3 separate regions of the Homo sapiens genome follow, and all the other regions are linked to region 1. The links come from fine-mapping of genetic effects on gene expression. A gene starts in region 1. Each other region holds a variant in brackets. All regions are shown on one strand. Distances are between the middles of the regions.

Evidence for each region.
Region 2: its variant is fine-mapped to the expression of EPHB6 in whole blood (TOPMed, PIP 0.91).
Region 3: its variant is fine-mapped to the expression of EPHB6 in whole blood (TOPMed, PIP above 0.99).

Annotation. Positions count from the first base shown.
Region 1 is chr7:142,850,632-142,858,814 of GRCh38, reverse strand. EPHB6 (EPH receptor B6) reads right to left here and starts at 3,739. Exons shown (of 20, transcript NM_004445.6): 1 at 3,430-3,739.
Region 2 is chr7:142,922,822-142,931,004 of GRCh38, reverse strand. It overlaps TRPV5 (transient receptor potential cation channel subfamily V member 5), which reads left to right. Exons shown (of 15, transcript NM_019841.7): 2 at 559-656; 3 at 825-947; 4 at 1,440-1,577; 5 at 1,885-1,983; 6 at 2,139-2,314; 7 at 2,771-2,917; 8 at 5,264-5,476. Among named protein-coding and RNA genes, the nearest start is that of TRPV5, 6.8 kb to the left of the region's middle. The variant C/T (reference allele first, on the strand shown) is at 3,767.
Region 3 is chr7:142,821,540-142,829,722 of GRCh38, reverse strand. No RefSeq gene overlaps it. Among named protein-coding and RNA genes, the nearest start is that of EPHB6, 29 kb to the left of the region's middle. The variant G/A (reference allele first, on the strand shown) is at 4,038.

The sequences.
Region 1 (8,183 bases):
GGTTGTGTTTTGTTTTCAGAAACTGGCAAAAAGTAAAGATTTGTAGAATCATAGGTTACAAAGCATAGCTTACGAGTTATGTTGCTATAAAAATGAAATATTTCACTTTGGGAGGCCAAGGTGGGCGGATCACAAGATCAGGAGATCGAGACCGTCCTGGCTAACACGGTGAAACCCCGTTTCTACTAAAAATACAAAAAAAAAAAAAAAAATTAGCTGGGCGTGGTGGCGTGTGCCTGTAGTCCCAGCTGCTGGGGAGGCTGAGGCAGGAGAATGGCGTGAACCCGGGAGGCAGAGCTTGCAGTGAGCCGAGATCGTGCCACTGCACTCCAGCCTCGGCGACAGAGCAAGATGCTGTCTCAAAAAAAAAAAAAAAAAAAAAAAAAAAAAAGAATGACTTAAAAGTAAATTAAATTGGTAAATTGGTAAGAATTTAAAAAATTAATCGTGCTCCAATTAAATGCTAAATATGATATTTTCATGAGCAAATCAAGCTTACTTAATATAGTTTATGCACCTCAATCCACAAAGTGAATTTTTAAAGATTAAATAATGTAAGCCAAATAAGCTTGGAGGAAGGTAGGCAGAAGACATATTAGGCCATTAAAATGGGTTACTGTGGGAGGTAGAAATGAAGGATTGTAGGTGGGGGCATTAATTTTGTCTTACACATAATTCAATTATTTTTCTTGTTACAGTAAGCATACCTTATTTTTATAATTAACGTAAAATCTCATAATTAAAATCTAAACAAAAAAGAAAAATATTTGTAAAACCTAGACAAATAAGCATACGTTTACATTTTATTCACTCCCCATGCCATTTTCCTTCTATGTTTCAAAATATCAAGAAATGTTCATCTATAAGAAGAAGGTAGAGGTGGAAATACAGTAGGAGCTGAGAATGAATGAGTGAAGTAATGCCAACAAGAAAACCAAAATAATTGTTATCTCTGGCTAGTCTTTAAGCTTGTCTCCCAAGAAGTTCCAACTGTCCCGCTGCTGACATCATGCATGCTTCTCTTCGACGATGTCAAGCAAAGGGATGAGGCTATGAAGGGACAGAGGGGAACCCAGGGGACTGTCCACTGGGAACACATAGTAAAGGGCATGGCCCCAAACCGAGCCCAGACAGGAACAATTTAGTGAGACAAAGCAGGCTGCAGAGTCCAGCAGGGACAGAACAGTCCCAAGGGCAAAGCGGTTCGAGGTTTTATGTCTGGTGTGGTTGCTGGGCTGGTCCTTACACCTGTGAGCCACACAGGTCAGTGTGGGAGGGGTCAGTACCACAGGCCCTGTCCCCTATCCTGTTCCACAGCTGTTAAACGCCCAGGAAATTCCAGTATAATCCTTGCTCAGTTTAATGCCAAAGCCTCTATCCTTTAATCTCCACCTTGGAGATCTCTTCGTGCTCTGGCCTCCTGCCTTGAGAAGGATCCCATCATCAGGCTTCATGGAGGCATCCAGGACAGACAGTGAGGAGGTGGCTGTCCTCCGGCTCTTCTAGTCCCTGCTTCCTTGGCTGGAGAAGCCAATTTGTAGATTACCTAGCAGAGGACAGTCCTGTGTCCCTGGAGGCCTCCAGCCCCTGAGAATGTCCCCCAGAGCACTGTGACTCAGACAAATGTGCCTCCCACTCCCAGGCTGTGGAGCTGGGGGAGGCTTTTAAGATGCAGGCAGTGTCTAGGTCTAGCCAGACAGCCACTTAGAATGAGCCACTCTGTGCACTGACCGGGGACATGCGTGGCTCTGGAAAAGAGCATAAGGGAGGGTGTTAAGGCAGGAGGCAAATGTGCCTGAGAGATGAGTAAGTGGAAGGTTGTGGAAGAAAGCCCCTGAGTGCCAGGAGTAGCACCTGCGTCAGCAGTGCCTGAGGATGTGTGTCTACCTGGTGGAGTGTGTAAGGGAATGTGTATGAGATGAGGTGGGCGGGAGCAGATGCTGTCTGTGTAGATGGGGGCTGTTGCTTTCCTGTGGCAGAAGATGCACATCAGTGCTGGTTCCGGAGTGGTTCCATGGGCCCTTCTTCCTCACCTTCGGCCCCTGCTCTACCCCCAGTCTGGCTGTGAGTTGCTCTTGGCCCCAGGAGGTACTTCTGCAGAAACACCTGGGCTGGGAGAGGGAGCCAAGTGGGGGGCGGGGAGGAGTGGGTAAAGAAAGGGAAACCTGAGGCTTCCCAAACCCTCCAGAACCTGCCATCCTCCTTCTACCTAGAGTGGGAACTCAGGGTCTAGGGCCCAGGCTCAGGACAGAGTGATAGCAGAACAGCCGTCCCAGAAGGAGGATCCTGCCTTTCCCATGCTCAGCCCACCCCAGCCTGTTGCTCCCCAGCATTCTGGTAACTCAGTGTCATTGCCAACCATCTTTTTGCACCCTGAATGGAGTAATAGACTCCAAACAAGTCCTCCTTCTGAGGCCACCAGGTAAGTACATAGACACCCCCACGCTAATCTTCCTTTGAGAAAAAAGGCCCACTGCTCTGAAAAGCCAAGTGGCCCCACTGAGCAGCACTCAGAAGCCTCAATGCTCCAATGCCCCTTACTTGGGCAGCTTCTGTGGTCTACTAACAGCCCCACACAGCTCCCTCCCACTGGTCTCTCAGCTCAGGACCAGCATCTCCCCTCCTAGAGCCTCAGTCAAGTTCCCCTGGCGGGCGGAGGGCCTGGGTTAACTGGGAACAGACCCAGCAGCTCCGCTCCATGGGCGCTGCCAGGGACATTACAACATTGCTATGCTGGGTCCATGCCAGCTCCCCCAGGGATGGGAGGAGAGAGGGTGCCAGACGGCCAAGATCGGTGGGTGGGGGTGTGGGGCAAGCAGGGCCAAGCACCCAGATGGAGGGAGCAGAGCGAGGGTGGAGCTGGGGCAGGAGCACGCAATAGAATTTGGTTGCACGTTGGGGGTGATGGCTGGGCAGCAGGAACCAAGCGTTCCTTCCACCTCCAAGGCTTAACTGTGGTCATGGAGCTGGGGGGGACAGTGCCTTGTGGGGAGCAGGGGACAGGTGTGTGGTCAGCCTCCTGACTCCTCCCAGCTCCAAGGGGATTGGAGTGATGCCACTGGAGTCAGAGGGGTGGCAATCCTGTTCCAAGCGTGGAGCTCCGTCTCTGCGAGGACCCTCCCAGATTAGGACTCCCAAGCCAGAGCCAGAGGAGAATGTCTGGGAACGCAACTGGGGGATCCTAACAGCAAGGGTAATGCGGTGTCAATGATGCCAGGTCAGAGTGGAGTGAGAGGGGAGTAGCCAGGTTGACCGTTTCCTCACCCTTCATGAACCCCACTCTGGCCTTGAGGAAGGATCCTCAGTACTCCCTCAGGAAGCCACCTAGGGGCTGAGGAGCCCCACTACTCTTGCAAACCTTAATTCCTCTGTCCCCAAGCATACTGTCCCCGACCCCCACAACGCCGCCTGCTAACCCCGCGGGCTCACCTTCCCGTTGGCCGCAGTCTCTGCAGGTCTGCGCCCCCCGAGGCCTCGCAGTGGACCCGGGGCTCCTGGAGCTCGCACGGTGCCACCCGCGTCTTCTCCAGTCCGGGGACCCCGTTGCACCCGGCCCGGGTCCGTTCGGCGCCGAGAGTCCCTGGGATTCCGGGGTGGACCTGACGCTGGCGGCAGGGGCTGCTCCAGAGGTGGGGCGCCGGGAGATCCTGGGGGCCCGCGTCGAGATCGCCGTCGCCAAGCTGGGTCCCGGGTCCCGCCGCCCGCTGCTGTAGAGCCGCGGCTGGAGCGAACGCAGCCCGGCCCGCCCCCTCCGCGTCCCCTCCCAAGCCGGCCCGGCCCGCCCCTTCAGCCCCTTTGGCCGCCTTCCCACTCCCTTCTTCCGGGGAGCCGAGCCCGCCCTCCCGGCCTAGGCGGTGAGTGCGCGGCGCCCGCTCCTCCGCCCCGGCGCGCGGGGGAGACGCGGGGCGCGCCCGGGGCCCCGCCTGTGCGCCGGGAAGGGGGCGGCCTCCTCCCGCGGGTCTTGGCCGGGAGGATCGCACGCGTGGGGCGCCTGCAGGAAGTGGGAAGGGAAGAGGCTGTCTGTAAAGCCCCTGCCTGGGCTCGGGCTCGGGCTCGGCTTGGGTCGGACACCCGCGGAGCGAAGCGCAACTGGCGGACCGTGGCAGTTCAGGGCAGGGCAGAGCCCTGCACACACCCCCTCGCGCCTCCCTCCTCTTCGGCTTTAACTCTAGGAACTAAAACAGTGGGGCTCCTACTCAGCTTGGAACTAAGGTGGGCGTGAGCTGAGCAAGAGAGAAGGAAGGAAAAGCAGGGGGTGGAGGGAAAGACAAACTGAGAAATCTGGGAGAGTACGGGCGGTGGTAGGGGGAGCCGAGGCAGCGGGAGAGGGGGGCGTCTCGGTATGAAAGCGTCGCCGTGCTAGCCGGGAACTCTTTTCTCTTTTCGTGTCTGGATCTTGGTCAACGTTGGGGCTTCTGAGTCGAACCTCCCTCCATCTACCCTCCCCAAGGGGCAGGGCAGTCGGGTTGAAAAGGGGAAGCGCTGCTGTACGCCTGGCTCTGACATGGCTTGGGCAAGTCGCTGCACCTCTGGGTGCCTCCTCCCTCGCCCGCGCTCCGGAGAGAACCTCCCTGCAGTGAGGAGGGGCGGTGCAAGGTGCTCTCAGCTGGCGCCTGGAGGCAGGGTTGAGGAACCGAGGGGGCGCCGCGAGGAAAAGTGTTTCCGCCCACCTCTAACCCCTTCTCTAGCCGAGGACGGGGATTTGGGGTCTATTGTTTGGGTCCTACAGAGCTGGGCTGGGGCCTTGCCACGAAGTGTTGCTACCACCTGCTGGTTTTTCTAGGGAGCACAAGCACCCGGTGCGATTCCCTTTGCCCCCTTTTCTCCCTGTATCGCCCTGTCCCATCTTGCTCTCCTGTTTATTAAAGCAAATGGGCTGATCAAAACTGGTACTTAAAGAGCATTCAGAAGCCGAAGAAAATTGTGAAAGAGATCTATGAGCCAACAAACACAATAAACAAAACAATGAAACTCAGTAAGAGTCACCTGGGAGAGACAAACAGGCTTTAATGAATTGACTGAATGAGTGATAGAAAGATAAAGGCTACCGAGCAAGTTCCCACTTGGCCAGGGGTTTGTTCACTCTTAATATCAGGAGTCAATAAATAAGTCTGATAGTATTTAATGACTGCATTTGGACGTCATTAATAATTCCACTTGTACTGACGGTTCTACTTTATCTTGTTTCTTCCCTTTGCCCTGAAACTCAGTGGTGGAGGGCTTCCTTCATTTTCTGGTTATCTCCAAGGCTTTCAAAGACTTCTGCAAAGAAACAGAATTTGCATTGTGTGTGGAATTACGTAACTCATACATTAACATGCCTGATTGCTAGACATCTATGGTTATATTGAAAACTTAAAAAAAAGACACATAACTAGATTATGTTAAAATAAAAATATGGACAAAACCAAACCGTAGTTGTTACTTTATAAAACCCAGAAATTCCTGTAGTAATTTGCAACGTATCCTGTATTGACATAACAGTAAAAATATCTGCCTTCTTTTCTATTTCATGATATACCTCATATTAGGTGACTATAATATGAAATGAAGTTTTTGCTGCTCAAGGCTTGTGTAATTAGTTATATTTGTCTTGTTAATAAAATTTGAGAGGCATCTAGTTTTCAAAGGAAGTGTCATACTCAGGATGCAAAGAGGTTTAAATTTGTGATTAGTCGGCTTTGCATCCTAATTGCCTATGTCTTATCAAACCAAGTTTTAATGGTAGGTGGAGAGCATAGAATGCATTGTTAAAGTATGCTGCAACCTGCAGCTATTAAAAAGCAAAGTAATGAATTCCTTTTTAAAGTTTAATGTAAATTTTTTGCTATAATTTGTTTGGTGCCTGGGACACTCCAGGTGCTTAGAAGTGTTATAGAATGAATCAATAAAAAATAATATTTAAACTTTTTCTATGTGGATGGGCACAGTGGCTTATGCCTGTAATCCCAGCACTTTGGGAGGCTGAGGTGAGAGGATCACTTGAGGTCAGGAGTTTGAGATCAGCCTGGCCAACATGGTGAAACCTCATCTCTACCAAACAATACAAAAATTAGCCAGGCATGGTGATGCATGCCTATAGTCCCAGACACTCAGGAGGCCAAGGTGGGAGAATCGCTTGAACCCGGGAGGCGGAGGTTGCAGTGAGCCAAGATTGTCCTACTGCACTCCAGCCTGGGCGACAGAGTGAGACCCTGTTTCTTTCTATATATATATGTGTGTATATATATATATTTTTTTTTTTTGACTTGTTCAAAAAAAAAACCCTGGAGTATTGCTAATGGGCAGGACCTAATAAAGTTTATGGCTCACAGAATTAATCATTTCTGGCACACAACAATCTATTATGTAAATTTGGAACCAAAAGGAACTGCTGAGTAGAAAACTCCAGGTGAGATAGGAAGGCTCCTAGATTGGTTCTGCCTCATTTTTTCTGAGTTTTTGCCTCCTTCTTGGGCTTTGCTCACTCCCCTAGGATGTGCAATTTTCTTCTTCCTTATTTCCCCTTAGAACAGCTAATGTAAGCTGATGTTGTCATAAACAAAGAGCTTTACAAATAATTTCACTGATAAGAATTCTAGTAAAAAGCCATAAAGGAGTCTTCTGAGTCCCCTATCTCTTATTCCAAAACATTAGTTATAGCTCCCAATGCATGACCTCACAGGGCTCAGGCCCTTCACTGAACTGTCTTGAGGCTTTGTGGCCTCTAGGTGCAGTTGCACTTCCTAAAAGCTGGAGTCTAGTCTCCAAACACTTTACCAATGGAAGTGTTAAATGCCCATTTGTACAACTAAAGCTTTTATTGTTTTCTGTTCAGAAACTTCTAGAATGTTCAAAAATTCTCCTATGTTACTGGTTTGTTTGAAAGTCAAACCTAGATTGCAACTGATTTGTAGACCAAGGGTAATGGATACCCTTCATGGTGGTATTAAAGTTTACCCATCATAGTCCTACACTTTGATATTACTTTAACCATGCAATAATAACAAGGTATTCAGAGATATTAGTGCCTCCAAGAGAAAGAGGATGGCTTTTCTCTCAGTTAGGGGTTGACTTCAGCTATATGTAACAGCAAAGTTGTACAACAGTGGTTTAAACAAATTAGATAACACAGAAATACGATGAAGGTCCCAAGTCAACAAGACTCCAACTTTAGGATGAGGACTTGTTCTCAGATTGTCAACATTTTAGCCAGAGCTCCAGCTATGAGGTCTACAAATTTCAGGCAAGAAAAAGAAGGGAACAGGATTAAAACGCTACATCCAGCTGAATTAGCACTGTTCAAAGAACCTTTCTGGAAGATCCATTCAGTGACTTCATATGTATTATTGGCCAGGACAGTGTCACGTGACCACCCCTACCTGCTTGAAACCTGCAAAATACATGCTGCACAAAATGAAATTAAAGCTGTTAAACCTAAGAGAGGAAGAAAGAAAGCGTGTTAGCCAGGGGAACAGCAGCCTCTGCCACAAATGAAATAAAATGATCACGGTAATCTACATTTTTCCCTGCAATCAACAGAGATCTCTATCTCCTTTTTATAGGATATACTTGCTGGTACTTTCCCCCAGACCACTGTCTTTACATAGGTTTAATGCTCAAAGATGGTCCCCAGGAAGTTAGTGGAGTGAAGGGAAATGCTAGGAGTGTCCTCTTTCTAAAATAACCATGACATGATCTCAAAAGAAAAATAACAAATCCTTTGCAGTTACCCATACAAACAATAGGACTTGAAAACATTCTAGATTTTAATAAGATTTTGGGCAGGGCAGTCCTCATATGCAGAGCAGAAGTGATCAACACTCCACACCATTCTTTGCTCCTTTCCTGGTTTGTATCTTTTCCATTCAGGTGCATATAGGAGATGGGATGATCTATGATGTGGAGCAGATGGTCCCCTGGTCGGCTCTTCCAGTAGAATGCAGTCTATTTCTGGAGCTGCGCCTCCAGATAGTGCTCTCTGAAAACATTTGCATTTCCTAAACTGAAAGGGTGGCCTGCATTTCTATGAGATCTGCCTTCTACTTGTAGATGTGGCTGACACATTTCCTGGTTCCCATATTCTCTTGTCTTATAGTATACGTCTCTCTCTACATTCAAATGGATTCTGAGAATCTATCCCATCAGAACTTAAAGCACCACCGACAAAGTGGAGCTAGTCAACATGAAGAATGAGTAAACAG
Region 2 (8,183 bases), 72 kb before region 1:
TAGTCAGAACTTTAGTGCCTCACAAATTTCACAAATTTCAAAATGCCTAGGAAAGATCTAGCAGTCGATCCATTCCTCCTCCCTCTGTGTTTTGGTCTCCCAAACTCCCCTTGGTTAAAGACAGTAGATTCAGCAGGCCCAGGAGCAGGGGGACCGCAGATGGAAGTGCCCTCTGTCCCGCTCTCCAACTATCCAGGATCTGAGACAGTTACTCAGGTTAGATGAATTCAGCCAAGCCTAGGGTCCTCTTCTTAGAGACTCTCAGACCACTCTTTCCAGACTACAGGTTCTCTTCCTATTAACTCTTCCCCTCCAGCAGAGCTTCAAGGGCCATCCTCACAGGAGAATCACCATGATGTGAATTGCAAGGAAGGCCCTGGGGCTGACCCTTGCCCAAGTCCACCCTCGGTCATTCGAGTCCAGTAGGCACTTCTTTCCAATTTGTCACTGCACGCTGTGTGAGTCACGTTGGTCTTAAAGAATGTCTTAGATCCCCTTTGCTCTTGGCCTCATTCTGCTATGACTGTCTCTTCCAAACTCACGTTCACCTTTCCCCAGGATTCTAGAGTCTCCACTGCTTCGAGCATCCAAGGAAAATGACCTGTCTGTTCTTAGGCAACTTCTACTGGACTGCACCTGTGACGTTCGACAAAGAGGTGGGATCTGGATTTAATGGGATGGAGGTGGGGGCAGAAGAACCTACTCCTCCTCCCCAAGACTTCGAGTTTGTGAAATAGGGCCTTGGAGGGTGTCTCTGGAGCCTGAGGCCCCTTCCTCAAGGGAATCTGAAAAGTGTCTAACATCTCTGTCTTACTCCAATCCAGGAGCCCTGGGGGAGACGGCGCTGCACATAGCAGCCCTCTATGACAACTTGGAGGCGGCCTTGGTGCTGATGGAGGCTGCCCCAGAGCTGGTCTTTGAGCCCACCACATGTGAGGCTTTTGCAGGTAAGGAGCCTACATGGTAATTCAAGGTGGAAACTTTGAGATGGAGGGTGTGCTGTTGTCTCTTAAAATTGGCCTCTGAAGGATGGGTTGGGGTGGGGTGATGGAGGGTCAGGAGGATGGGCTCCGTTGAGTTGGGAGAAATGCAAAGGTCCTGGTCTTGGCTTTTACCAATCTGTGGCTTCCTTCAGCATTTCCTTTCAAACCTCCCATAGTCCCTGTAGGACCTATCTCAATTTCTTTCTCTCATAGCAACATGAGAATGATTATATTCATAGCAATCCCCTGCTGGCTCCCAATAACTGAAGGGTAGGTCAATGAGCAGGGCAGCCTGAGGGATGAATTGCTCTTAGTCCCAGGCCACCCTGCCAAGCCCAGGGCAGAAGTCTAGCAAAGATCTATCAGGAACCTCCTGAGAGGGATGGTGGGGGATGCTGTGTCCCTGAGAGAACTGGGGACAGAGGGAGACCCTGATGATGGCTGTCTCTGGGCCAGGTCAGACTGCACTGCACATCGCTGTTGTGAACCAGAATGTGAACCTGGTGCGTGCCCTGCTCACCCGCAGGGCCAGTGTCTCTGCCAGAGCCACAGGCACTGCCTTCCGCCATAGTCCCCGCAACCTCATCTACTTTGGTGAGAGCAGGGTTGGGCTTGAAGGATGGTTGGCTGGAGAGGCGGGCAAGGCAGAGGGAGGCCAGGGCATGAGGGTCCTGCCTTCAGCTCCATCTGTTGGGCAGTTGAGAGGGGCAGCCCTTCTAGGGCTTAATTAAGCCAGAGGCCCATTCCCCTGATGGTTCCTTCCTCTGGTTCTGCTGGACGAGTGTCCCTCAGCCTAGAACTGAGATATGGGGGATGAGGAGGAGGCCCTTATTTGGGGGAGACTGCCCACCCCATCCTGCCATCCTGCGTTCTCCTGCCATGGATCTCTCTGTGTCCACAGGGGAGCACCCTTTGTCCTTTGCTGCCTGTGTGAACAGCGAGGAGATCGTGCGGCTGCTCATTGAGCATGGAGCTGACATCAGGGCCCAGGACTCCCTGGGTAAGAGCTGGGATGGGGAGGGGAGCTGGGATGCTGTGGGGAGCGAGGGACAGGGTAAGGAGTGGAGCTGGGACCTTTAGGAAGACCCCAGAGTGGGGATGGGGACATCAGGGACTTTAGGCCAGTGGCCACATGATACCCTGCGTCCTCCCCAGGAAACACAGTATTACACATCCTCATCCTCCAGCCCAACAAAACCTTTGCCTGCCAGATGTACAACCTGCTGCTGTCCTATGATGGACATGGGGACCACCTGCAGCCCCTGGACCTTGTGCCCAATCACCAGGGTCTCACCCCCTTCAAGCTGGCTGGAGTGGAGGGTAACACTGTGGTAAGAGACGCTCCCCATCCCTGAGGTGTCTTTCTAATGACCCTCAACCTATCCTGCTGGCCCTGGGAGAAATAGAGGTGAAGGGCCCACCTTTCTCTAAAATCCCTTTTCCCCAAACTCCCCAAAGGGATGGTGGTCCCTTGCTTCCTATTCCATCACTGAAATCTTCAGCTTCATGGTCCTTGACTCAAGAGGATTTGAGAACCTTACCTTAATGCATGTGCTGTGATAACCCAAAGCTCTAGCTTCCTTTGCCTATTTTCTTCTTTCTGCACTTTCTGGGGTTTTGGAGCAGGAAAGATGACAAAAAAGGGAAAGCTTGTAGATGCAGAGGTTTGCTGGTTCCCACTGTCTGTCTGTCTCAAGGGGTGGGCAACTGGCTCCATCCAATGGAGTTGTTCTCCTCGACCACCTTCTCACACGTTGGCCCCCTGACTCATCCTGGTGGTCTCTCAGATGTTCCAGCACCTGATGCAGAAGCGGAGGCACATCCAGTGGACGTATGGACCCCTGACCTCCATTCTCTACGACCTCACGGAGATCGACTCCTGGGGAGAGGAGCTGTCCTTCCTGGAGCTTGTGGTCTCCTCTGATAAACGAGAGGTATGGATGCCAAGGAGGATCAGGCCTGTCATGTGAGGGAATTTAGTGTTTGTGCAGAGTCTGTCCACTTACTAAGATCCTGGGCCTGAGACACTTCCCAGCCTTATAATAGGTGGAGATGAGAATAGTCTCCTGGGACATGGGGGAAAGTCCAATGCACACTCCTCTCCTGAATCCCCTGTCTCTCTGCTTAGCTCCAGTCCCTTCTGCCTACCTTTCGCCTTCTATCATTTCAGATGAGAAACTCCAAATAAGAGCTGTTTCCTCATATTCATTCATTGGTTCAGCATTGATATGGTTTGCATTTGTGTCCAAATGCAAAAATTTCATGTCAAATTGTAATCCACAGTGTTGGAGAAGGGGCCTGGTGGGAGGTGATTGGATCATGGGGACAGACTTCCCTCTTGATGTTCTCGTGATAGTGAGTTTTCACAAGATCCGGTTGTTTAAAAGTGTGTGGCACCTCCCCCTGCTCTCTCTTCCTCCTGCTCTCTCTTCCTCCTGCTCCGGCCATGTAGGATGTGCCTGCTTTCTTCTTGGCCTTTTGCCATGATTGTACGTTTCCTCAGGCCTCTCCAGAACCTGTACAGCCTGCAGAACCATGAGCCAATTAAACCTTTTTATTTATAAATTACCCTGTGCCAGGTAGTTCTTTATAGTAATATGAGAATGGACTAATACAAGCATATTGAACACCCGCTGTATGTCAGGCACTGCACAAGAAACAAACAGTACAGAAATAAATACAACACAGTTCCTGTTCATCAACTTCCTCAATTCTCAGTCCCTGTCCTGAATAATTGCAACAGAGCATGACATATGCCGTAATAGTTGTGTGTACCATGCATG[C/T]AGACAGCCACATTGAGGTAGAGTTAACTTGGCTTGGATAGACCAGAGAAGATGTCACAGAGGAAATGCTGGGGCTGGATCTTCAAGGAAGAATTGGGAGTCACAGGAAGATGAGAGAAAAAAAAGAGCTTTTTAGAGAGGGAGCAACGTATAGACCATTCAACAATGCTGGGTTGAGTGATGTGAGGGAAACGAAAATTTGTTGAAGACTGCAGTAGAGAGGAGAAAAGACTTCCAGGTTTCAGAACGTTCCATGAGAGTGCCAAGATGTAGTTTCTGTTTTGTATCTGCCACAGTGACAATTTCCCAGGAATCCTTATAGATCCAGAAAACATGAATGATTATTAATACTAACGAATAGAAGAAAAGTTGAGTGGCTAGTTTGTGAGATCTTCCTCAGAGAATATCCCTGGAAACAGATACACTTTGAGCAGGATTTCTTAGGTATTAAAAGCACAATCCCACTGTGTGGATTTCGCCACCACATATCCTTGGTCTTTGATTTAAGCTATTCTCAATATTCTCCAGCAGGTTTCATAAGTGTCTTGGGTCAGTTGCTTTTTTCCTCCATAAATCTTCCTTTCTAGCCCCCTTTCACATCCTTCACTACCTTCAGCTGCAGTTCAGAAGACCTAGACTCCTGATTTAGGACAAAAATAGAGGCTTTCTGGCTGGGGATCCTTCAGCTTCCTGCCCTACACTGCCGAGCATGTCTGGAAACTGCCCACTGTCTCTCTCCTCCCCTCCAGCTTCAGTAGAAAAGATATTCATGCTGTTAATGGCTAATCACTCTACTGTGCTTTGAATCTGTCTCTTTCTAATTTCTCAGATGCCTCCTCCCGTCCATCATCCCCTCTCCTGTGTATCTTTAACGTCTCACTGGCTGCTTATTTCAGAGCACCATCCCACCCTGCCACATCCTACTGCCTGTAACCTCCATTGCTTCTTTCCAGCCCAATAATACTTCTAGAGCAAATCTGACCACTTCCCTGCTTGAACTCCCCAGTTGCTTTCTGTTATATTTAGAAAAAACAAAAAATGCAAACTTCCTACCTTGGCATTTATGATGCATGATGACCTGGCCCTGTTCTTCCTCAGTCATTATCATTTCTGACTACCACTCCCAATAGATTCTCCCCTCTCCCCAACCACATCTCAACTGCAAATGGGCAATGGCTTCTCAGACCTTCCTGACCTGGCAACTGCTGTTAGCTTATGGTATGATCTTTCCTAACTCTCCCTTTACTCATCTAACTACTACTCATCCTTTAAATCCTCTTTGGTGCTATGGTGCCTTGTGTTTACTGCTATAGTCATTTACCTGTATCACTAGCACAAGGCCCAGCCATATGCAGGAAATATACTATTTGTCCGTCAAATAAGTGACTGATGAGCTGAGTGAGTGATGGTTGCTGCCCTGCCTCTTCTGGCCCCCAGTGGGATAAACAACATCCTTCTGTGTTGGTCACCCCAAGTTTCACTCTACTTCCATGCCAGGCTCGCCAAATTCTGGAACAGACCCCAGTGAAGGAGCTGGTGAGCTTCAAGTGGAACAAGTATGGCCGGCCGTACTTCTGCATCCTGGCTGCCTTGTACCTGCTCTACATGATCTGCTTTACTACGTGCTGCGTCTACCGCCCCCTTAAGTTTCGTGGTGGCAACCGCACTCATTCTCGAGACATCACCATCCTCCAGCAAAAACTACTACAGGTGATTCTCCTCAGAAGGGGATGAGAGAGAATTGCATCAAGGGGTGATGGTGCTGGAAACGAAGCCATGCTACTCAGGGACGATGCCACGCTCTGGGTTCCAGCAGGTGTAGGCTCCTAAACACCCAGGTAGAAATTAGACATGAGACCAGGAGGCCACAGATGGGGTTTAATGAGCACAAGAGCATTTGTCCAGGGAGCTGTGGATTTTCTCACACAAACTTTGAAAGAGTGCTTGGCATGAGTAAGCCTGTGCTTTTGTGAAATTTTTTGGTAATTTACAAAAAGTATCAGGGTTTTTTAGTGGGATGTTCAAGGTAAACTCTATTGCTCAAAAGGAGGAAAATTGTGCTCCAAGTCCATTTCTGAGTCCATTTTTGTTGTATTTGGGCAACACAGACAGCCCTGCTGGCCTGCACCCTCTTCTGTGTGCTGTCTATATGGGCCCATGGGAATAATGTGTCAGCTGTCTGACTGCCTGTCAGACACTCTGCAGAAGGATGTCTGGATTGGGTATCAGGCTGAAGTAAATACTCTCTGAGGCTCCATTTAGTGTTGTGGGCCTGCCATTCTGTGTTGTGGTGGCCAAGGGAAAACTAGGGTTAGGAAGAGGACTGATTCGAGGTACACAGTAAATATAGAAATCTGCTGTTGAAGAAAGTAAACCTCCTTTTTGTGCAACAGAAAGGGTAGACTCTAATGAGCACTTCTGAATATATATATTTAACAACTGTAGCTATATTTGAGGGGTTGACTCTTTGTGGATTACTAAAATTTTTGTCCTGGTGAGCTGAAAATACACAGAAGGTGATGTAGGTATGTAGCAGAAAGCAAAAGACCAGGAAAAAGAATTTTGCAAAGCAAGTGAGAACTGAGTGATTGGAGATTTATCTCAATGCAGGAGAGAGCAGCCATAGGTATAGCTCAGCCTGGACTAGGAAGCAGGGTAGTTTCAGTCGGAAAGAGAATATAAACTTTCTATAGCCAAGAAGCAAAAATCCTGAATTTGTTTAGACCAAAGACAGCGATATGCACAGAGAAAGAACAGGGCAAAGAGCCCAAATGAACCCTATGCTAGGTAGAGACACTCCATCTCTCCTGTTTTTAGAATTGCCTTTATATATATACATGTATATGTATATATATATATATATGTATATATATACATGTATATGTCTATATATATATATATGTATATATATACATGTATATGTGTGTATATATATATGTATATATATACATGTATATGTATATATATATATATGTATATATATACATGTATATGTATATATATATATATGTATATATATACAGTGTGTCATGTGTCCAGATACACTGCCTCTCACCAAGTAGGTCTTGCTGCCTGGGGAGGACAAGCCTGAATGTGTTAGAGACACTGGAAGCAGTTGTGCTGCATGCATCTCAGTCTGGCCGCAAAAGTTGTCCCTGGCATGGAGACATGAGGAAAATAAGGACAGTTAGGAGATGGCAAGTGGAGGGAGGAGTGATTAGAAATTGAGAAAACACAAACAAGGTGGGGATGACTGGACTTTTCCAATGCTCCTGGCCCTATTTCCTCAGATATGTCTTCTCCAACCTTCCTTTGTCTCAAATTTACTTGGAGATTTTCTGCATTTTGAAGGTAGACAGGACTCTGGGTTAAAAGGTGGGCAATGCTGAGCCACTGATAACCAAAACTCTCCTTCCTGTGTGTCTCTTTCTCTTTGGGACAGGGCTAGTTATGTACAATCACATTTCTTTGATCCAGATAGTCTGTATGTAAAAGACCGCCTCCTTTGCTTCAGGACTCAGAAGCATAATTATAGCTGAACACCTGACCCATCCTTCTTTCTTTCTCTCTTCTGCCTTCCTTCTTGTTCCTTGGCATTTTTACCCTTTCTGCCTTCTGCTTCAGTGAAAGCCACTTCAGCTCAAAGAGAAGACTTTGGACTTTCAGATATTCTTTTCTTGGTGGAGAAGTGGGTGGGTAAGAGGATTGAGAATGCTGCTGGAAGGGGTTAGATAACAAAGAACGCTAATGAAAAGTCCCTATGCTTTGAGCCCTGGCCCTGATTTATGGGATGACTATGTTCTTCTTATTCAGTAGTAAGCCCATTTGGATTAGATCAGGGGCTCCTAAACTTATCATCATGATTTGAAAGATTCTGTTTTCACAGTGCACCAGATTTTTTAAATAATAGGAAATTCCTTTTTTTTCCTACTGTTTTCTTACTTGAAAGTCTTAGAAAAAATGAAAACGCACAAATACAGTGTCTTGATTTGACTCATGCAATTGTTGACATATTAGTTAGCTGGTGGAGCTTTTTCTTAGATGAATGAATACTTTACTGTCCAATTATATTAATAACTCTGGGATCACAGGGATCTCAGTCACTTCAGGACTTCCTCTGCAGATCTCTTGGGATCTGTGGAAATCACTGGGCTCCATCACCCCTAAGATCCTTTCTAGTTTAATATCTGGCATTTTATAAGAGTAGTGCAACAGCACCATCTCAGAACAGATGAGAGAAAACAAATTCCTCTGTATAAGGTAGCAAAAAACTACACAAAAGCTGATGTTTGTAAAGCTGGAGTTAGTTTATTTCTATCCAATTTGGGGGCTATCTTAATGACTCTAAGACACCTCATTGCTCAGCCATAAAAGTTCTGCTTTACTAGAGATTTCCCAGAACTCTATTAATTTGAGT
Region 3 (8,183 bases), 29 kb after region 1:
GGCTGGAGTGCAGTGGCATGATCTCGTCTCACTGCAACCTCCACCTCACGGGTTCAAGCAATTCTCCTGCCTCAGCCTCCCGAGTAGCTGGGACGACAGGCACGTGCCACAATGCCCAGCTAATGTTTGTGTTTTTTTTTTAATAGAGACGGGGTTTCACCATGTTGGCCAGGATCGTCTCGATCTCTTGACCTTGTGATCCACCCGCCTTGGCCTCCTAAAATGCTGGGATTACAGGCGTGAGCCCCTGCGCCCGGCCATGTGGAGTTTCAATAAACACTGCCAAATTACCCTCCATAAAGACTGTTGCAGTTTACTTTCCAGCTGTGCATGAGAGCATGTTATTTCCCTACATGCTTGCCAACATCAGATACTATTGATTCTTTTAATTATGCCAATCTGATGGGTGAAATGGTGGGTTTTTAAAAACATTACATTCAACCGATCATTAGATCTAGCCTCTTTCTGTATGTATGTTGGCCTTCCTCAGTGCAGGTCTATCTTTTACGCATTTTCTCTTCTTTTCCTATTTCAGAGGAAAAAAGTTCCCCCTTCTTGATGTCCAATAATTAATCCACATGCCTCTTTGTTTCTCAAATATCTTCTTTCTTTAGCATCTTCAATTTTCCTGTCTTTATGTAGTTCTTCCTCTTGGCTTTCTATATAATCAGACTATAAATACGTTGGAATAAAAGACTGTATTCAACTCTACCATTCCCTTTAACCTCTCCCTTACTCGCTCTGCCCCTAAACTTGTCAAATGAGTGCTCTGAATCTGCTACTTTCTCCTCCTCTAGTCAACAACATCGGTGAAGTCATTCAGTCCTAATTTTACTGAATTTTTAAAGTTCTTTTAAATCCTGCTGCCACCTCTTTGTACCCACAGTCTCCTCTGAACTTCCAAGATACCATCCCATTTCTTGTCTTCCCTCTAGAACTACTTTCTTAATTTCTTAAGCTTACTTTTCCCCTCCTTTTACCTATAAGTGTGGATGTTCAACAGTTTTTATTTTTGGACCTTTGTTCCTTTTTCTTCACTTGTTGCTTTGGAGATCTCATCCATTCCAAACATTTCAACTATTTTCTCTCTGCGGATGACCCCTGAAGTCAGTATTTCTAGTCCTGGTGTCTCATTAAAAATCCAAATTTTCACTTGCACTTTTCTGATTGAATTGGACTCAATGTGACTTCAAGGTCAGAATGACAAATGACATTTAGTATCTTCCTCTCTCTCAAACTGAATTCTGTGATTTTATCAACTTTTTTTTTTTTTGTATGTAATGAGAAACAGAACATCTTACTTTCCAAGTAGTGAATTCTCCCTGGATAGAGACTAATTTTGTCTACTGAATACTTTGATGAGTCACTTTTGATGTAGGGGAATAGGTGAGAGGGCAACCTCAGGAAGGACTGAGCTTGTAGAGAAAGAGGTGGCTATGCAACTGCTTTCCAAGTGGTGCTGAGCTGCTGTTACACTTTTGTTTTGCTGGATACACTTTCAAGAGCTGAATTGTCTGGGGCTATAATGAGGATGGCAGTGGCTGTGGAAAGAAAGAGGAGGAAAAAGGTAGCTGGCAACCAGAATGGAAATTTGGCAAAAGAACAGACACGTTTAAGAGGGATTTTATGAGGCTCTGCCCTGCTCCACTGCATGCATGATATACTTGCTTACTTATCTCTCTGGAAAATCTTCAGCACAAAACCTTTTCTTACTGATTGATTGTGATTAATTGCAGTTAATTAGTTAAAATGTGGCATTAATTATTGACATTCTCTTGCTTAAATTTTCTCAGTGGTTTTCTGTTGTCCTAACACTGTATCAAAAATAATTCTTTCTTTTACAGCTTTATTAAAATGCACTTGACAAACAATAGACATCTTTAAAATGTACAATTTGGTAAGCTTTGACATACGCAAACACCTGGGAAACCATCATAAAACTTAATGTAATGAACTTACACATCACCTCCAAAAGTTTTGCTGTGGCCCGCTATTTATTTATTTATTTAAATTTCAACTTTTATTTTAGATACAGGGAGAACATGTGCAGATTTGTTACATGGGAATATTGCCTAATACTGAGGTTTGTACTGAGGTTTGAAGTACAGATCTTGTCACCCAGGTACAGAAGATAGTGCCTGATAGGTAGTTTTTCAAAACACTTCCCCTTGTCTCTCTCCCCCTTCTGGTAGTTCACAATGTCTATTGTTCCATTGTTTATATCCATGTATGCTCAATGTTTAGTTCCCACTTTTAAGTGATAACATGCGATATTTGGTTTTCCGTTCCTGGATTAATTTGCTTAGGATTATGGCCTCCAACTGCATCCATTTTGCTGCAAAGAACATAATTTCATTCTTTTTTTATGGCTGCGTACCATTCCATGGTGTATATGTACCACATTTTCTTGATCCAATCTACCATTGATGGGCACCTGGTTTGATTCCATGTCTTTGCTATTGTGAATAGCCTTGTGGCTTTTTATAATTCCATCCTTCTCTCCATGCTGTTCCCAGACAAACACTGATAGAGTGCTTCTTCTATTACTATAGATTTCTTTGTGTTTTCTAGAATTTAATATAATGCAATTATAAACTATGTACTCTTTTTTGTTTCTTTACTTTTATTCATCATATTATTTTGAGATTTATCTATGTTGTTTTAAATTTAAATAGTTCATTCTTTTTATTGCTAATTTTCCTTTGTGTGGATACATGACAATTTCAGCATTAGTTCGCCCATTAATAGGCAATTGGATTTTTTCCAAATTTTGACTATTACAAATAAAATTGTTATGAAAATTTGTGTCTTTGTGTGGACCTGTGCCTTTCTTTCTTTCTTTTTTTTTTTTTTAGACAGAGTCTCTGTCTGTCACCCAGGCTGGAGTGTAATGGCACAGTCTCGGCTCACCACAACCTCCATCACCTGGGTTCAAGCAATTCTCCTGCCTCAGCCTCCCGAGCAGCTGGGACCACAGGCATGTGCCACCACGCTCGGCCAATTTTGTATTTTTACTAGAGATGGGGTCTCTCCATGTTGGACAGGCTGGTCTTGTATTCCCTGCCTCCAGTGATCCTCCCGCCTTGGCCTCCCAAAGTGCTGGGATTACAGGCGTGAGCCACTGCACCCAGCAAACATTTCATTCCTTTAGTGTTATCTTTTCACCATCTAGTTTTAAATGTTGATGAAATTCAGCTTTTTTCTTTTATGCTTCATGCTTTTTGTGTTTTATTTAAGAATCACTAATAAGCCCAACATTACTGAGATTTTCTCTCATGTCTTCTTCTAGAACCTTTATAGTTTTAGCAAATCTGTTTAAATGTATAATCCATTTTGAGTGAGTATGTGTTGCTGGTATAAGGCAAGGTTGAGGTTTATTATTGTTATTTTGCATATGGTTAGCTAATTGCTCCAGAACCACTTACTGAAAAACTATTCTTTCCCCAGTGAACTGCCTTTTCAGCTTTGTTGAAAGTCAGTTGTCCAAATATGTGTGGATCTACTTTTGGATTCTCTATTCTGCTCAAAATTTTTTGACATAAAGTTGTTTATAATATTCCTTTAACATTCTTTTAATACCTGTAGATTTTGTAGCAGTACCTTCTCTCTCATTCCTAATATGAGTAATTTATATTTTCTCTCTTTTTTCCTGATTAGTCTGCTAGCACCCTATCGATTTTATTGATCTTCTCAAATAACAAACTTTTGGTTACTTTGGTTTTTCTTTACTGGTTTTGTGTTCTCCATTTCACTAATTTCTCCTGTGATATTTATCACCTTCTTTCTTCAGCTTAATTTTAGGCTTAATTTGCTCTTCTTTTTCTAGTTTATAAGGTGGAATCTGAGGTCATTGATTTGAGAACTTTCATTTTCTAGTGGCAAATTCAAGAGGACTCCACTAAATCACTCCTGTTTAGTGATTCACTGGAAGAACTCAAAGAATTCAAGAAGGCCACAATACTCACAGTTTATTAGAGTGGAAATACAGATTAAAGACAGTGAAGGGAAGAGGCTCATAGAGCAGGGTTCAAGAGAGC[G/A]TAGGCATGCAGCTTCCAGTTGTCCCCAGCAGAGATGTGCAAACAGCACTTATTTCTCTCAGCAATGATGTGTCACAGTATGCATAAAGTATTGACTTTCTTTTTTCTCAATATTACTTTAGTTATTGGTGGTTTCACACAAATTTCGAATTTTTAAAACTGGAGTCATTCACCTGAGCTTTGTGTCCAGAGTTTTTATTGGAGGTTTGTCCAGAGCTTTTTACAGGGGTTTGGACACACTAATACACTGTGTAGCCTAAAGTCCCCACCATAAATCATTGTTAGCATAGGCTGTCTGGTATGGCCCAAACCCTCCCAGATAAACAAAGTTATTTTAATCAGGCAGGACATTCCAAGGGTTTAAAAGTTATGATCCAAAGCCTAGGGAAAAGGGAGGACCAAAACTTTCTTTGGGCAAGGTTAATCCTTTACTGTACACTAATGTAAATATTTTAGTGCTATGAGTTCTCCTCTGTGTACTGAATTAGCTGCATTTCAAAAATTTTTGATATATTGCGTTTTTATCCTTATTTACTTCAAAATACTCTATAATTCCTCCTTTGATTTATTCTTTGACCCATAGGTAGTTTATATACATGTATTTAGTTTCCAAGTATTTGGAGATTTTCCAGATTTTTCTACTATTAATTTCTAATATAATCCCACTGGAGAGAGATAATGTAACTTGTACTACTTGATTCTTTTTTTATTAAAATCCAAAATGAAAGAGAAGATATTACAACTGATACCACAGAAATACAAAGAATTGTGAGACTACTATGAAGAATTATACACCAACAAATTGGAGAACCTAGAAGAAATGTATAAATTCCTAGACACATACAACCTACTAAGACTGAATCATGAAGAAAAAAATCTGAACAGATCAATGATTGAGGAGATTAAATTAGTAATAAAATTTTTCCCATCAAATAATAGCCAAGGACCTGATGGCTTCACTGCCAGATTCTATCAAACATTTAAAGAAGAACTTATGCTAATTGTTCTCAAATGTTTCCAGAAAATTGGAGAAGAGGGAGTCCTTTTAAACTCATTTTATGAAGCCAGCATTACCTGATACCAAAACCAGACAGGGATACTACAAGAAAAGAGAATTACAGGACAATATTTCTGATGAATATAGTTGTTAAAATTCTCAACAAAATATCAGCAAACTGAATTTGACATCACATTAAAATGATCATACATTATAATCAAGTGGGATTTATCCCTGGGATGCAAGCATGGCTCAACATATACAAATCAATAAACGATACACCATATTAACAGAGTGAAGAACAAAAGCCATATAATCATCTCAACGGATGCAGAAAAAGCATCTGATAATTTCAACATCCCTTCATGACAAAAACTCTCAACAAATTAGGTATAAAAGAAATATACTTTAACACAATAAAGGTAATATATTACAAGCCCATAGCTAACATCATTTTCAACAGTAAAAAGTTGAAAGCCTTTTCTCTAAGATCAAGATCAAGACAAATATGCCATCTTGTTACCTTTATTCTACATAGTACTGGAATTCCTAGTTAGAGCAATTATTAAAGAAAAAGAAATAAAAGGTGTCTAAATTACTATTAAAGTAAAACCATCTCTGTTTGCAGATGATACGATCTTAAATTATATAAAACCCTAAAGACTCTAGTAAAAAAGTATTAGAACTAATAAACAAATTTATTAAATTTGCAGAATACAAAATCAACATACAAAAATCAATTCCATTTATGTACACTAACAATGAACTATGTAAAAGAGAAATTTAGAAAATGATCCTATTTACAAACATCAAAAGGAATAAAACACCTTGAAATAAATTTAACCAAGGAGGTGAAAGATCTGTACACTAAAAACCGTAAAACAATGATGAAAGAAATTGAAGAAGATACAAATACATGGAAATCTATCCTACCTTCATAGATCAGAAGGGTCAATATTGTGAAAATGTCCACACTACCCAAAGTCATCTACAGATTGAATGCAATCTCTATGAAATTTCCAGTGGCATTTTCACAGATTAAATATTGCTTTAGATAGCTAAAGCAATATTAAGAAGAAAGAAGAAAGCTGAAGGCATCACATTTTCCAGTCTCAAGTTATATTACAAATCTATAGTAATCAAAACAGTATGGTATTGGCTTAAAAACAGACATATAGAATAAAGGAACCGAACAGAAAGCCCAGAAATAAACCCACACATATATGGTCAACTAATCTTTGACAAAAGCACCAAGAGTATGCAACGGGAAAAGGGTAGCCTCTTCGATAAATGGTGCTGGGAAATTGAATATCTGTATCCAAAAAAATAAAATAAAATAAAACTGAACCCTTATGTTACACTATATACGGAAAATCAACTTTAAATGGATTAAATATTTAAATGTAAGATCTGAAACTGCAAAAATTTTATAAGAAAACATAAAAAAAAGCTTCATGACATTGGTCTTGGCAATTTTTTTGATGTAACAACAAAAGAACAGATAACAAAAGTAAAAATAAACAAATGGTAATACATCAAACTAAAAAAGCTTCTGCATGACAAAAGAAACAATCAACAAAATGAAAAAGCAAACCATGAAATGGGAGAAAATTTTGTAAACCATATGTCTGATAAAGGGTTAATATCCATTTAAAAAAATGGGCAAACCGCCTGTTTTCAAAGAATATATGTTTTCATTTTTTCACTTTTCCAAAGAAGATAATCAGGTATATGAAAAGGTGCTGAACATCACTAATCATCTTTTTTGATTATTCAACATTTTTCTAAAGTAGACACTCAAATGGCCAAAAGGGATATGAAAAGGTATTCAACATCATTAATCATTAGGGAAATGAAAATCAAAACCACAATAAAATATTACCTCACATTTGTTAGGCTGGTCATTATCAAAAAGACAGTATTTTTCTTTCAGTATTTTAAAGATGTTGCTTTACTGTGTTCTCACTTGCTTTGTTTTCACCAAGAAATCTTCTGTCATCTTTATCTTGTTCTACTGTACAAAACATGTTTTTATCCTGTGGCTGCTTTTAAGATTTTCTCTTTAACACTAATTTTCAGAAATCTGATTATGATATTCTTTGGTGTATTTTGTGTATGTATGCTTGAGTTTTGTCAGGCTTCTTGGATATGTGAGGTTCGAGTTTTATTGACTTTAGAAACTTTCAGTCATGATTTCTTCCAATAGTTTTTTCTTTCTTCCCATCTTTCTTCTCTTCTTTTAAAACCCCAGTTATGTTAGTTCACTTTAAGTTGTCCTGTAACAATTAATTGTCTGTTTCCTTTCAAAAATTATTTTATTTCCTCTATCCTCCATTTTTGGTTTGCCTTTGTTGCTATATCTTCCTAGGTTACTAGTATTTTCTTCTACATTGTCTAATCTATCATTAATCTCATCCAGTGTATTTTTCATCTCAGATATTGTCATTTTCATCTCCAGAAGTTGGCTTTGCAGCTTTTAAAAATATCTTCTATGTCTGCTTAACATCTCTAGCTTAACTATTTTATTTTTAAATTAAATTATTATTATTTTTTTACTAATTCTAACATCTGTGCCAGTTTTCCTTTCATTATACGTTGCATTTTTCTGCTATTTTTGTATGCTTGGTAATTTTTTTATTTTATTCCATACATTGAGTTTTAATTTTGTGTTGGACTTTTTATTTTTCTATAAATATTTTTGAGCCCTGTTTTAGAATACAGTTACATTTCTTGAAATAATCTGATGCTTTTGTACCTGGCTTTAATCATTTGTTAGATGACAGCAGAGCAGCATTTAGTTTAGAGATCATTATCCTCCACTTCTGAGCCCAAACACTTCTGAGCTCTTGTCCCAATGCCCCATGAATTTTAATGTTTTTGAGTTTGGCTGGTGAAACTATACACTATTCCCGGCCCTACATGAAATTCAGTTACTGTTTTCTTTAATCCTTTGTGTGGTTATTTTCCCAATCTCAGGTGGTTTTTTCACACTCATGCTCTTGTTAATACCCTACTGAATACTGAGGGTGGGCTCTCTGATGACCTCACAAATTCTCTCTTTGCCCGCTTCTCTCCTCTGCTATCCTCAGCCCTGTGAACTCTACTTGACTTATTCTCCTCTCAGCTGTGTCTCCTTGACTCGAGGAGTT